Linked DNA regions of Homo sapiens: region 2 is linked to region 1. Evidence: fine-mapped QTL for protein levels in blood plasma. A gene starts in region 1. The other region holds a variant in brackets. All regions are shown on one strand. Distances are from middle to middle.

Region 1 (5,366 bases):
CCTGGGCTGCAAATTGGTACTGGTCCATGACCTGGTAGGAACCAGGTGGCATAGCAGAAGGTGAGCAGGATGAGCAAGCATTACTGCCTGAGATCAGCAGTGGAATTAGATTCTCATAGGAGCGCAAACCCTATGTGAACTGCACACAAGAAGGATCTAGGTTGCGTGCTCCTTATTAGAATCTAATGCCTGTTGATCTGAGGTGGAAGTTTCATCCCAAAACCATCACCCTCACCCCCAACCCTTCTGATCTGTGGAAAGATTGTCTTCTCTGAGGCTGGGCACGTGGCTCACGCCTGTAACGCCCAATGCTTTGAGAGTTCAAGGCAGGCGGATCACCTGAGGTCAGGAGTTCGAGACCAGGCTGGCCAACATGGTGAAACCTCGTCCCTACTAAAAAAATACAAAAAAAGAAAAAAAAAAGAAAAAAAAAAAAAGATTGTCTTCTCTGAAACTGGTCCCTGGTGCCAAAAAGGTTGGGGACTGTCTTAAACAACAGAGATTTATTGTCTCACACTTCTGGAGACTAGAAGTCAAGACTGAAATATCAGTAGGGTGGGTTCATTCTGGGAACCGTGAGGAATAATCTATTCCATGCCTCTCCCCTGGCTTCTGGCATTTTGCTGGAAATCTTTGGCACTCCCTGACTGGTAGAAGCATCACCCTGATCTCTGTCTTCATCTTCACAAACATCTTAGTGAGTTTGTGCTGCTATAACAAAATCCCACAGACTGAGTAATTTACAAACAACAGAAATTTATTCCTCACAGTTCTGGAGACTGGGAAGTCCAAGATCCAGGCACTGGCAGGTTCGGTGTCTGTGAAGGTCCATTCCTCAGAGATGGTGCGTCTGGGTTTCCTCATGTGATGGAAGGGACAGAAAGGCAAGAGAGCAAGAGGGGTGAACTCTCTCAGAAACCTCTTTCATAAGGTCATTAATCCCTTCATGAGGGGAGAGCCCTCATGGTTTCATCATGTCCCAAAAGGCCCTACTCCTTTTTGGTTTTTTTCAGAGGCAGGATGTCGCTCTGTCACCAAGGTTGGAGTGCAGTGGCAGGATCACAGCTCACTGTAACCTCAAATTCCTGGACTCAAGGGATCTGCCTGCCTCAGCCTCCCAAATAGCTGGGACTACAGGCGTGCACCACCATGCCTAATTTTTATTTATTTATTTATTGTAGAGACACGGTCTCACTATGTTGCCCAGACTGGTCGAAAACTCCTGGCCTCAAGAGATCCTCACACTTCGGCCTCCCAAAGTGCTGGGATTACAGGTGTGAGCCACTGTGCCTGGCTTCCTCCTCTTAATATCACCACAATGGGGACTAAGTTTCAGCACATGAATTTGGTGGGATATTCAGGCCATAGCAATGTTCTTCCTATGTGTGTGTCTGTGTCCACATTTCCTCTTTTGATATGAACACCAGTCATATTGATTAGGGGCCCACCCTACTCCAGTATGACCTCATCTTAATGGATTACATCTGCAATGACCCTATTTCCAAATAAGGTCACAGTCTGAGGTATTGGAGGTTAAGACTTCAACATATAACTTTGTGAAGGACACGAGTCAATGCATAACAGTGATGGGAGCTAGGTGAGCAGATGAGCACATGAGCAGATGGAAAGTGAGGAGAGGGCCCTGAGGAACTCTGACGGTGAAGAAAATGGAGACCTTTTTGAAATGACCAGAGGTAGGAGAGGTATTGCCGAAACCAGCAGAATCCGTGATCTAAAAAGGCAGTGACAAGCAGTGTTCATCACTGGGAGGAGGACAGGATGAGAGTGGGCTTGTCGCTGTGATGACAGTGTCGCTGTGATGGAGTGTCACAAACAACTCAGGAAGAGTTCACCCTGACACCCCAATACATATGCCTCTAACACTCTGCACCGCCACACCCCTGGGCAGTCAGTCACACATTGGCCATACCCTGAAGCCCACACTATCATTTATTTTTTATTTATTTATTTATTTATTGAGACGGAGTCTCAGTCTTGCTTTGTCACCCAGGCTGGAGTGCAGTGGCGTGATCTCGGCTCACTGCAAGCTCCACCACCCAGGTTCATGCCATCCTCCTGCCTCAGCCTCCCGAGTAGCTGACACTACAGGCGCCCGTCACCATGCCCGGCTAATGTTTTTGTATTTTCAGTAGAGACGGGGTTTCACTGTGTTAACCAGGATGGTCTCCATCTCCTGACCTCGTGATCCACCCGCCTTGGCCTCCCAAAGTGGTGGGATTACAGGTGTGAGCCACCACGCCCGGCCCCTGAAGCCCACACTATCACACGGATGCACAGTCACACAAAATACCCCCTACCGTGTCACAAATTCCTCATACACAGAGCCACACATGCCAGTCACAACCGCACATGCTAACAGTAAGTTAGGTTCCATTTTGTCACATACATCTGGGTCCCTCAGGCAGAGAAAGTGGCAACCAAAGCATGAGCACAGTTAAACATACTTCTGATGCACACTGGCCTCACTGTCTCTTGGTCTCTCTGTACTCACATGTGTGCATACAGGCACACGCACACATCCGCGCACACATGCACGCTCACACACGTGCATCCTTACACATGCTCACACTCACGCTCACAATGTCACACGCATGTGCACACCCGCACAAGCACACGAGCGCACTCACGAGCACACGCGGACTCGCACACGCGCACATGCGCACTCACGCACGCACACACGCGCACACTCACACGGGCGCGCGCAGCCCCTCCGGCCGCGGGCGCAGCGGGGGCGCTGGTGGAGCTGCGAAGGGCCAGGTCCGGCGGGCGGGGCGGCGGCTGGCACTGGCTCCGGACTCTGCCCGGCCAGGGCGGCGGCTCCAGCCGGGAGGGCGACGTGGAGCGGCCACGTGGAGCGGCCCGGGGGAGGCTGGCGGCGGGAGGCGAGGCGCGGGCGGCGCAGCAGCCAGGAGCGCCCACGGAGCTGGACCCCCAGAGCCGCGCGGCGCCGCAGCAGGTGGGTGACACCCCGCCCCGGCCGGCCGGAGACCCGAGCCCATCGCCGTCAGCCAGCCAGGGCCGCGCGGGGTAGGTGGCCTCCAGCCTCTGGTCCAGATCCCGAGAGCGCAGTCCCTCTGCATCCCCTGCGGCTCAGACGCGGCGGGAGCAGTGGCCCTTGCCCCTGTGTACCCTGAGGGCAGGTGGAGGAAGGGACTGGAGAGCGAGCCTGAGGCTCCTTGGTGTGAATTTGGGGCTTCGCAGTTCCCCAGGCGCTTCCCCCAGCCCCGCATTCCGTGTTCCAGCAGTCCTGGGGGAGGGGCAGCTGGCGGGAGCTTTCCCCCTCATCCGACGGGGAAGAAATGGAGCGCTGGGGAGGGCCCGAGGCTGTCGTCCGCTTGCAGGTGGCCGAGGGACCAGCTCCCGGGTGTGGGCTCCTCTAGCCCTGTAGCCGCTGTCTCCTTTCTTGGGGGATGGGTGCTGGGAGGCACAAGGGCACCAGAGGGATAAATTAAGAATTAAGGGAGAGGATTCTACTCAAAATTTTAGCTTCCCAACAGTTCGACTCTACAGGAGATGGAACTGCCGGCCTGTGAGGTGCTAGGTTCCTGTCCTGGAATGATTCAAGCAGAGGCCATTTGACAGGGTTGCTGAGGAAGAAATTTTTGCTTTGGATGGGAAGTTACCCAGGATAACCCTGCAAGGCCCCTGCCACAGCCCAGAGGCTCTGAAATACCCAAGCAGCACCTGCTTGGTGCCAGGCACCTACCCTAAGTTTTCTCATTGCAGCCTCCCCAAACCTTTAGGAGACAGATACCGTTATCCTCATTTTTAAAATGCAGATCCCGACCAGGAGCAGTGGCTCACGCCTGTAATCCCAGCACTTTGGGAGGCCGAGACGGGCGGAACACGAAGTCAGGAAATCGATACCATCCTGGTTAACACGGTGAAACCCCGTCTCTGCTAAAAATACAAAAAAAATTTAGCCAGGCGTGGTGGCAGGCGCCTGTAGTCCCAGATACTCGGGAGGCTGAGGCAGGAGAATGGAGAATGGCGTGAACCCGGGAGGCGGAGCTTGCTGTGAGCCGAGATCGTGCCATTGCACTCCAGCCTGGGCGACAGAGCGAGACTCCGCCTCAAAAAAAAAAAAAAAAAAAAATTCAGATCCCAGGGCTCAGAGAGGTTAAGACACCTGCCTAGGTCCCACAGTGAGTAGTATCAGAGGCAGGATTTGATCAGAAGTCTAACCTGTAGAGCGTGCTCTCCTCCCATGCACTGGTGCAAAGGCTTGAAGAACACTGGGGCCGGAGGGTCATTGTGAATGTGTGAGTGCACGTGTGTGACATAACTTTATTAAATTACATGGCAACTGTTAACAGTTATGGTGGCTTTCATGTGTTTATTAGGGTAATTATGTTCATGCACATTATAGTTATAGAAAATGGTTAGGGACATTTTTATTGGACAGGCAGTGGTTCAATAACTATTTTATTTCTCTCACAAAAGCTTTTGTTAATGTTTAGAAATGTCTAAGTGTCAACACATCGCACTAACCTCATTACACATTACATGAGGTGTCTTAGCCTTTCCTTAAACCACTGAGGTGGGTTACTTGCACTAAAATGTCACAGTTGGAAGCATTACTTAGAATATTGGCCAGGTGCAGTGGCTCATGCCTGTAATCCCAGCACTTTGGGAGGCCAAGGTGGGTAGATCACTTGATCAGGGGTTCGAGAACAGCCTGTCCAACGTGGTGAAACCCCGTCTCTACTAAAAATACAAAAATTAGCCAGGTGTAGTGGTGCACACCTGTAATCCCAGCTACTTGGGAGGCTGAGGCAGGAGAATCGCTTGAGCCTGGGAAGTGGAGACTATGGTGAGTAGATTTTGCGCCACTGCACTCCAGCCTGGGTGACAGAGCGAGACTCTGTCTCAAAAAAAGAGAGAGAGAGAGAGAGAGAGAGAGAGAGAGAGAGAGAGAGAGAGAGAGAGAATAGGCCTGGCCTGGTGGCTCATCCCTGTAATCCCAGCACTTTGGGAGGCCAAGGTGGGCAGATCACCTGAGGTCAGGAGTTCAAGACCAGCCTGGCCAAGATGCCGAAACCCCATCTCTACTAAAAATACAAAATTAGCAGGTCATGGTGGCACATGCCTGTAATCCCAGCTACTCGGGAGGCTGAGGCAGGAGAATCGCTTGAACTCGGGAGGTGGAGGTTGTGGTGAGCTGAGATCGCGCCATTGCACTCCAGCCTGGGCAGCAGAGTGAGACTCTATCTCAAAAAAAAAAAAATTATACTGAAAGTCCACATCATTTACTTTTTTTTTTCTCTCTCTTTTTTTGAGACAGTCTTGCTCTGTGACCCCAGCTGGAGTGCAATGGCACAATCTTGGCTCATTGCAACCTCTGC
Region 2 (5,342 bases), 17 kb after region 1:
AGGCTCTGTTTGATTGGTCCATTCTATCCTTGACTGTTTTCATATACTCAAGTGGTTGATTTTGCCAATGGGCCTAAGCCATGTCAGTCTTAGGGGAAGTTTTTGTTTTTTCCTTTATAGTGGGTCTAATTTTCCTAACTGCATTTAGCAAATAGCAATTCCTGGGGCCACTGTTGGTCTGACCCTGATTTATTGTGTTTGCAGTTTGTACTTGAGTTTAGACCTATTTCAAGAAGTCTGCGCCTCTTTTGATTTGTTCTTCAGTGGGTTTTTAATAAACACAAACAGTCCATTTCTCTTTTTGCCTGTGTTTAAGTCTTGGTCTTTTTGTGACTCCCTGCGTTTCTTACCTGGCCTTTTTCTTAAACTTTCTGCGCTCCTTTCCATCTGTAAGATGAATGGGCTGAAGGAGGTCAGATATGCTTGCGCTGTACTTCTCTGGGCACCTTGGCACCTAGTGGGGAGCAAGGGAATGGGGCGTGGGGTGGGGATGCGCCCCCAGCTCTGCTTCCGCCACAGCAGGCCTGCCTTTATGTGCTTTATATACAAGAGCTGGAGTGACATTTATTTTGAGCATAGTTCCATGGGATCCCTGCTGTCTGTCTGTGAGTCCTCCCTGAGCAGGAGTCCTGTCTTTGGGGCTGCAGGTAGAAGCAGGCAGAAAATGCGCTTGTGTCTAACCCAGCCCATCTGTGACACGGTGGCAGACGCCTCTTTCCCCCGACCCCTGATTCTCTTCCTTGTTCCAGTTCCAGGAAGGATGTTACCTTTGACGATGACAGTGTTAATCCTGCTGCTGCTCCCCACGGGTCAGGCTGCCCCAAAGGATGGAGTCACAAGGTAACAGGGTTATGAGGGCAGGGCCAAGGGCTGGGAGGAGGGAAAGTCTCTAGAGAATCCAAGGGTGTGGTGGGCCCTCTGGGAGGCAGGAGACTGGGGTGTAGGTTCCCCGATCTCTGTATCTCCCTGCCATCAGCCTCCCATCTTGTGCCTGTCAGAGTGCCACAAAGTGGGCATTCAGTACATGCTTGCTGGACCCATTTGGAATCAGAGAACTCAGCTCCAGTGCATCGTGAAGAACAGGGAAGAAGCTGTGGCGCCAGAGAAGTGGGGGCTGCAATTGTTTGTTTGTTTGTTTGTTCTTGAGACAGAGTCTTACTCTGTCGCCCAGGCTGGAGTGCAGTGGCATGATCTCAGCTCACTGCGAGCTCCGCCTCCCGGGTTCAAGCAATTCTTCTGCCTCAGCCTCCCGAGTAGCTGGGACTACAGGCGCCCGCCACCATGCTGGGCTAATTTTTGTATTTTTAGTAGAGGTGGGGTTTCACCATGTTGGCCAGGCTGGTCTCGAACTCTTGACCTTGTGATCCGCCCACATCGGCCTCTCAAAGTGCTGGGATTACAGGCATGAGCCACCGTGCCTGGCCTGCAGTTTTGTTATCAAGACCTTGAGGTGGGCTGGGTGTGGTGGCTCACACCTGTAATCCCAGCACTTTGGGAGGCCGAGGCGGACAGATCACCTGAGGTCAGGAGTTCGAGACCAGCCTGGCCAACATGGTGAAACCCCATCTCTACAGAAATAAAAAACAATTAGCCGGGCATGGTGGTGCATGCCTGTAATCCCAGCTACTCAGGAGGCTGAGGCAAGAGAATCGCTTGAACCCGGGAGGTGGAAGTTGCAGTGAGCCGAGATCAAGCCACTGCACTCAGCCTGGGTGACAGAGCGAGACTCTATCTCAGAAAAAAAAAGACCTTATGGTGGCAACACCAAAGAAGTAGAGATCATTAGCATGTCATTTCTATGTTATCTGAATACCTTTCTGAAGGTTTTATTTATAAATACTGTGCAATGGGTATGCTGGGTAGAAGGGGAAACAGCCACAGGAACAGCCACAGGGGCTGGTAGCTGTGACAAAAGTCGCTGCAACTCCTGCCAGCTCTCTGGCATCACAGGTCTGGATTGACTTGGGCAAACAGTTAACCCAGTCCAGAAGTGGGAGCACATTTGGAGCTTGAAAGACTGACAACGAGATCCTGAGCAGCTTGAAACCCCAGAACCAACAGATACACCCTGTCCTGGAAAAAGTATAGGTCAATTTTATGTCATGGAGCAAACTGGGTCTATATAAAACTGGGCAGTGCCACCAGGCTCAGCCAGAGACCTGTCCCTTGGCTCCCAGCATGGAAGGAGAGGGGTCTGTGACCCATGTTGTCCTGCCACTCACTGGGCTGTTTTCTTGGATCTCTAACTTGTGTCTACTAGGTGTGGCCTCATCTGGCCTCTACCTAACCAGTTGTTTTATTTGGGTTTTCATTTAAAGTCTAAGGTAGCCAGCTGCAAAAACAGAGTCTGAGGGAGTTAAGGATTTGGTTCCAAGGAGACCAGAAGAGCCTCCCCACTACAGGGTTTTTGGAATTTTGGGGGCAACTCCCTTTGGGTCTGGGGAGAAAACTGCCAGGAGATTGGAGGCAGAAGGTTGGCAGGCTGGGCCCTGAGGGAGGCTCTCTGCAAGGCTGGTCCTCCCCTTCCTCCTCCAGGCCAGACTCTGAAGTGCAGCATCAGCTCCTGCCCAACCCCTTCCAGCCAGGCCAGGAGCAGCTCGGGTGAGTAGGGTGGGCCGGGGGTGCTTTCAGGGAGAAGACCAGGCCCAGGGCTGCAGACTCACCTCTCCCGGGCTGATTCTCCACTTTTCTGACAGACTTCTGCAGAGCTACCTAAAGGGACTAGGAAGGACAGAAGTGCAACTGGAGCATCTGAGCCGGGAGCAGGGTGAGGGGCTGGGCTGATGGGGCCAGGGACGGGAGGCTCTGGGCAGCCAGATCTGGGACTGACCTCGGCTGCCCCATTGACTCCTGCCTTCTCCACCTCCCCCGGCACCTCTTCTAATCCAGCTTCTCTTCTCTTTAGTTCTCCTCTACCTCTTTGCCCTCCATGACTATGACCAGAGTGGACAGCTGGATGGCCTGGAGCTGCTGTCCATGTTGACAGCTGCTCTGGCCCCTGGAGCTGCCAACTCTCCTACCACCAACCCGGTAAGCTCTGCTGGATGGAGATCCCCGCATAAAGGAGACCCAGCACTTTGGGGCTTTGGTCTTTCTCATCATAACTCTTTTGGTGAGTCCTCTGTAAAAGGAGGGCTCAGAGCTTGCACGGCAGGGATGCAAGGGTGTGTTAGGGAGGGTCAGAACTCCTGGGAACATCTCTGTCCCTGGAGACCCCACAGTGACTCTGCTTCCACAGGTGATCTTGATAGTGGACAAAGTGCTCGAGACCCAGGACCTGAATGGGGATGGGCTCATGACCCCTGCTGAGCTCATCAACTTCCCGGGAGTAGCCCTCAGGCACGTGGAGCCCGGAGAGCCCCTTGCTCCATCTCCTCAGGAGCCACAAGCTGTTGGAAGGCAGTCCCTATTAGCTAAAAGCCCATTAAGACAAGAAACACAGGAAGCCCCTGGTCCCAGAGAAGAAGCAAAGGGCCAGGTAGAGGCCAGAAGGGAGTCTTTGGATCCTGTCCAGGAGCCTGGGGGCCAGGCAGAGGCTGATGGAGATGTTCCAGGGCCCAGAGGGGAAGCTGAGGGCCAGGCAGAGGCTAAAGGAGATGCCCCTGGGCCCAGAGGGGAAGCTGGGGGCCAGGCAGAGGCTGAAGGAGATGCCCCCGGGCCCAGAGGGGAAGCTGGGGGCCAGGCAGAGGCTGAAGGAGATGCCCCCGGGCCCAGAGGGGAAGCTGGGGGCCAGGCAGAGGCCAGGGAGAATGGAGAGGAGGCCAAGGAACTTCCAGGGGAAACACTGGAGTCTAAGAACACCCAAAATGACTTTGAGGTGCACATTGTTCAAGTGGAGAATGATGAGATCTAGATCTTGAAGATACAGGTACCCCACGAAGTCTCAGTGCCAGAACATAAGCCCTGAAGTGGGCAGGGGAAATGTACGCTGGGACAAGGACCATCTCTGTGCCCCCTGCCTGGTCCCAGTAGGTATCAGGTCTTTCTGTGCAGCTCAGGGAGACCCTAAGTTAAGGGGCAGATTACCAATA[A/C]AGAACTGAATGAATTCATCCCCCCGGCCACCTCTCTACCCGTCCAGCCTGCCCAGACCCTCTCAGAGGAACGGGGTTGGGGACCGAAAGGACAGGGATGCCGCCTGCCCAGTGTTTCTGGGCCTCACGGTGCTCCGGCAGCAGAGCGCATGGTGCTAGCCATGGCCGGCTGCAGAGGACCCAGTGAGGAAAGCTCAGTCTATCCCTGGGCCCCAAACCCTCACCGGTTCCCCCTCACCTGGTGTTCAGACACCCCATGCTCTCCTGCAGCTCAGGGCAGGTGACCCCATCCCCAGTAATATTAATCATCACTAGAACTTTTTGAGAGCCTTGTACACATCAGGCATCATGCTGGGCATTTTATATATGATTTTATCCTCACAATAATTCTGTAGCCAAGCAGAATTGGTTCCATTTGACAGATGAAGAAATTGAGGCAGATTGCGTTAAGTGCTGTACCCTAAGGTGATATGCAGCTAATTAAATGGCAGATTTTAATCCAGGTCTGTCTCACTCTAAAGCCCTTTACATTATATGCTCTTTACATTATAAGGCCTTACCCACCCTATATTGGAGTTGGCCCCAATTCCAATATGTGTTCCAGATCGGACCTCCCTGAGGACAGCAACACTCTGTATCCTGGGTCACATTTGTGGCTGAGGCACGCCCTTAATTCCAAGGTGGGCTCCAAGGGTGAGACTTTCAGGCTCTGGGGCAGTCAGCGGGAGGAGGTATTTCTGGACAATGAAGACCCCATCAAATCACAGGCTGGTGGGCAGGGCAGAGGAGGCGCACCCCTGCCCCCCACTGGCCTGTCAGTTCAGCTCAGCGGTGTGGACTCCCAGCTTCTGAGCTGTGGGAATAGAGTCTGCACAACGCAGGGCCCCGAAGAGCTCTCACGGTTTCTTTGGCAGGTTCACTGGGTGTGGGGCACCGAGTGTCCTCCCCAGCCAGGGCAGAGCTGGTGGCAAGCCCAGGGCACTTCTCGCTGCTCTAGCCCAGGCAGCCCCTCCTCTGGGCCTGGGCGGAGAGGTTAATTTGGGGAATGGACACAAAGAGGGAGGATCGAAGAGTCAGAGCCTCAGGAATGCCCAGCCAGAGCAGTTCAGACATTGAGAGGAGAAGCTGGCTCTGAGGAAGATTTATTTGCTCTGAGGCTCTGCATCCCCCAGCCATCCCCCCAGAGCCTCTCCCTGTGGGGAACACAGGACACAGGCAGAGTCCTCCCCACAGCTTGCATCTGTCCCCTGAACAGGGCAACCTGGACGCCAGGCTGGATGGAGGGGAGAAGGCGATGCAGCCGCAATGGTA

Direction of the effects. Positions count from the first base shown, and alleles are read on the strand shown. Strength reflects both the effect of a copy and how common the allele is.
For the plasma level of the protein whose gene starts at base 2,695 in region 1, A is the high allele of the variant in region 2 and C is the other (strong association).

The links. PIP is the posterior inclusion probability: the model's chance that the variant is causal. The UK Biobank Pharma Proteomics Project read protein levels with antibody pairs (Olink). The fine-mapping took linkage between variants from a reference panel, not from the people measured, so its PIPs are less certain.
Region 2: its variant is fine-mapped to the plasma level of the CGREF1 protein (UK Biobank, PIP above 0.99).

The regions. Positions count from the first base shown.
Region 1 is chr2:27,116,457-27,121,822 of GRCh38, reverse strand. CGREF1 (cell growth regulator with EF-hand domain 1) reads left to right here and starts at 2,695. Exons shown (of 6, transcript NM_006569.6): 1 at 2,695-2,977. It overlaps LOC124907744 (a long non-coding RNA gene), which reads right to left. Exons shown (of 2, transcript XR_007086252.1): 2 at 4,338-5,366. RefSeq lists enhancers at 2,762-3,262, 3,263-3,763.
Region 2 is chr2:27,099,785-27,105,126 of GRCh38, reverse strand. It overlaps KHK (ketohexokinase), which reads right to left. Exons shown (of 8, transcript NM_006488.3): 8 at 4,365-5,342. It overlaps CGREF1 (cell growth regulator with EF-hand domain 1), which reads left to right. Exons shown (of 6, transcript NM_006569.6): 2 at 750-840; 3 at 2,536-2,601; 4 at 2,697-2,767; 5 at 2,906-3,030; 6 at 3,239-4,533. The coding sequence starts at 761. The coding sequence ends at 3,853. LOC124907744 (a long non-coding RNA gene) reads right to left here and starts at 750. Exons shown (of 2, transcript XR_007086252.1): 1 at 351-750. RefSeq lists a silencer at 3,345-3,524 and enhancers at 3,138-3,638, 5,244-5,342. The variant A/C (reference allele first, on the strand shown) is at 4,032.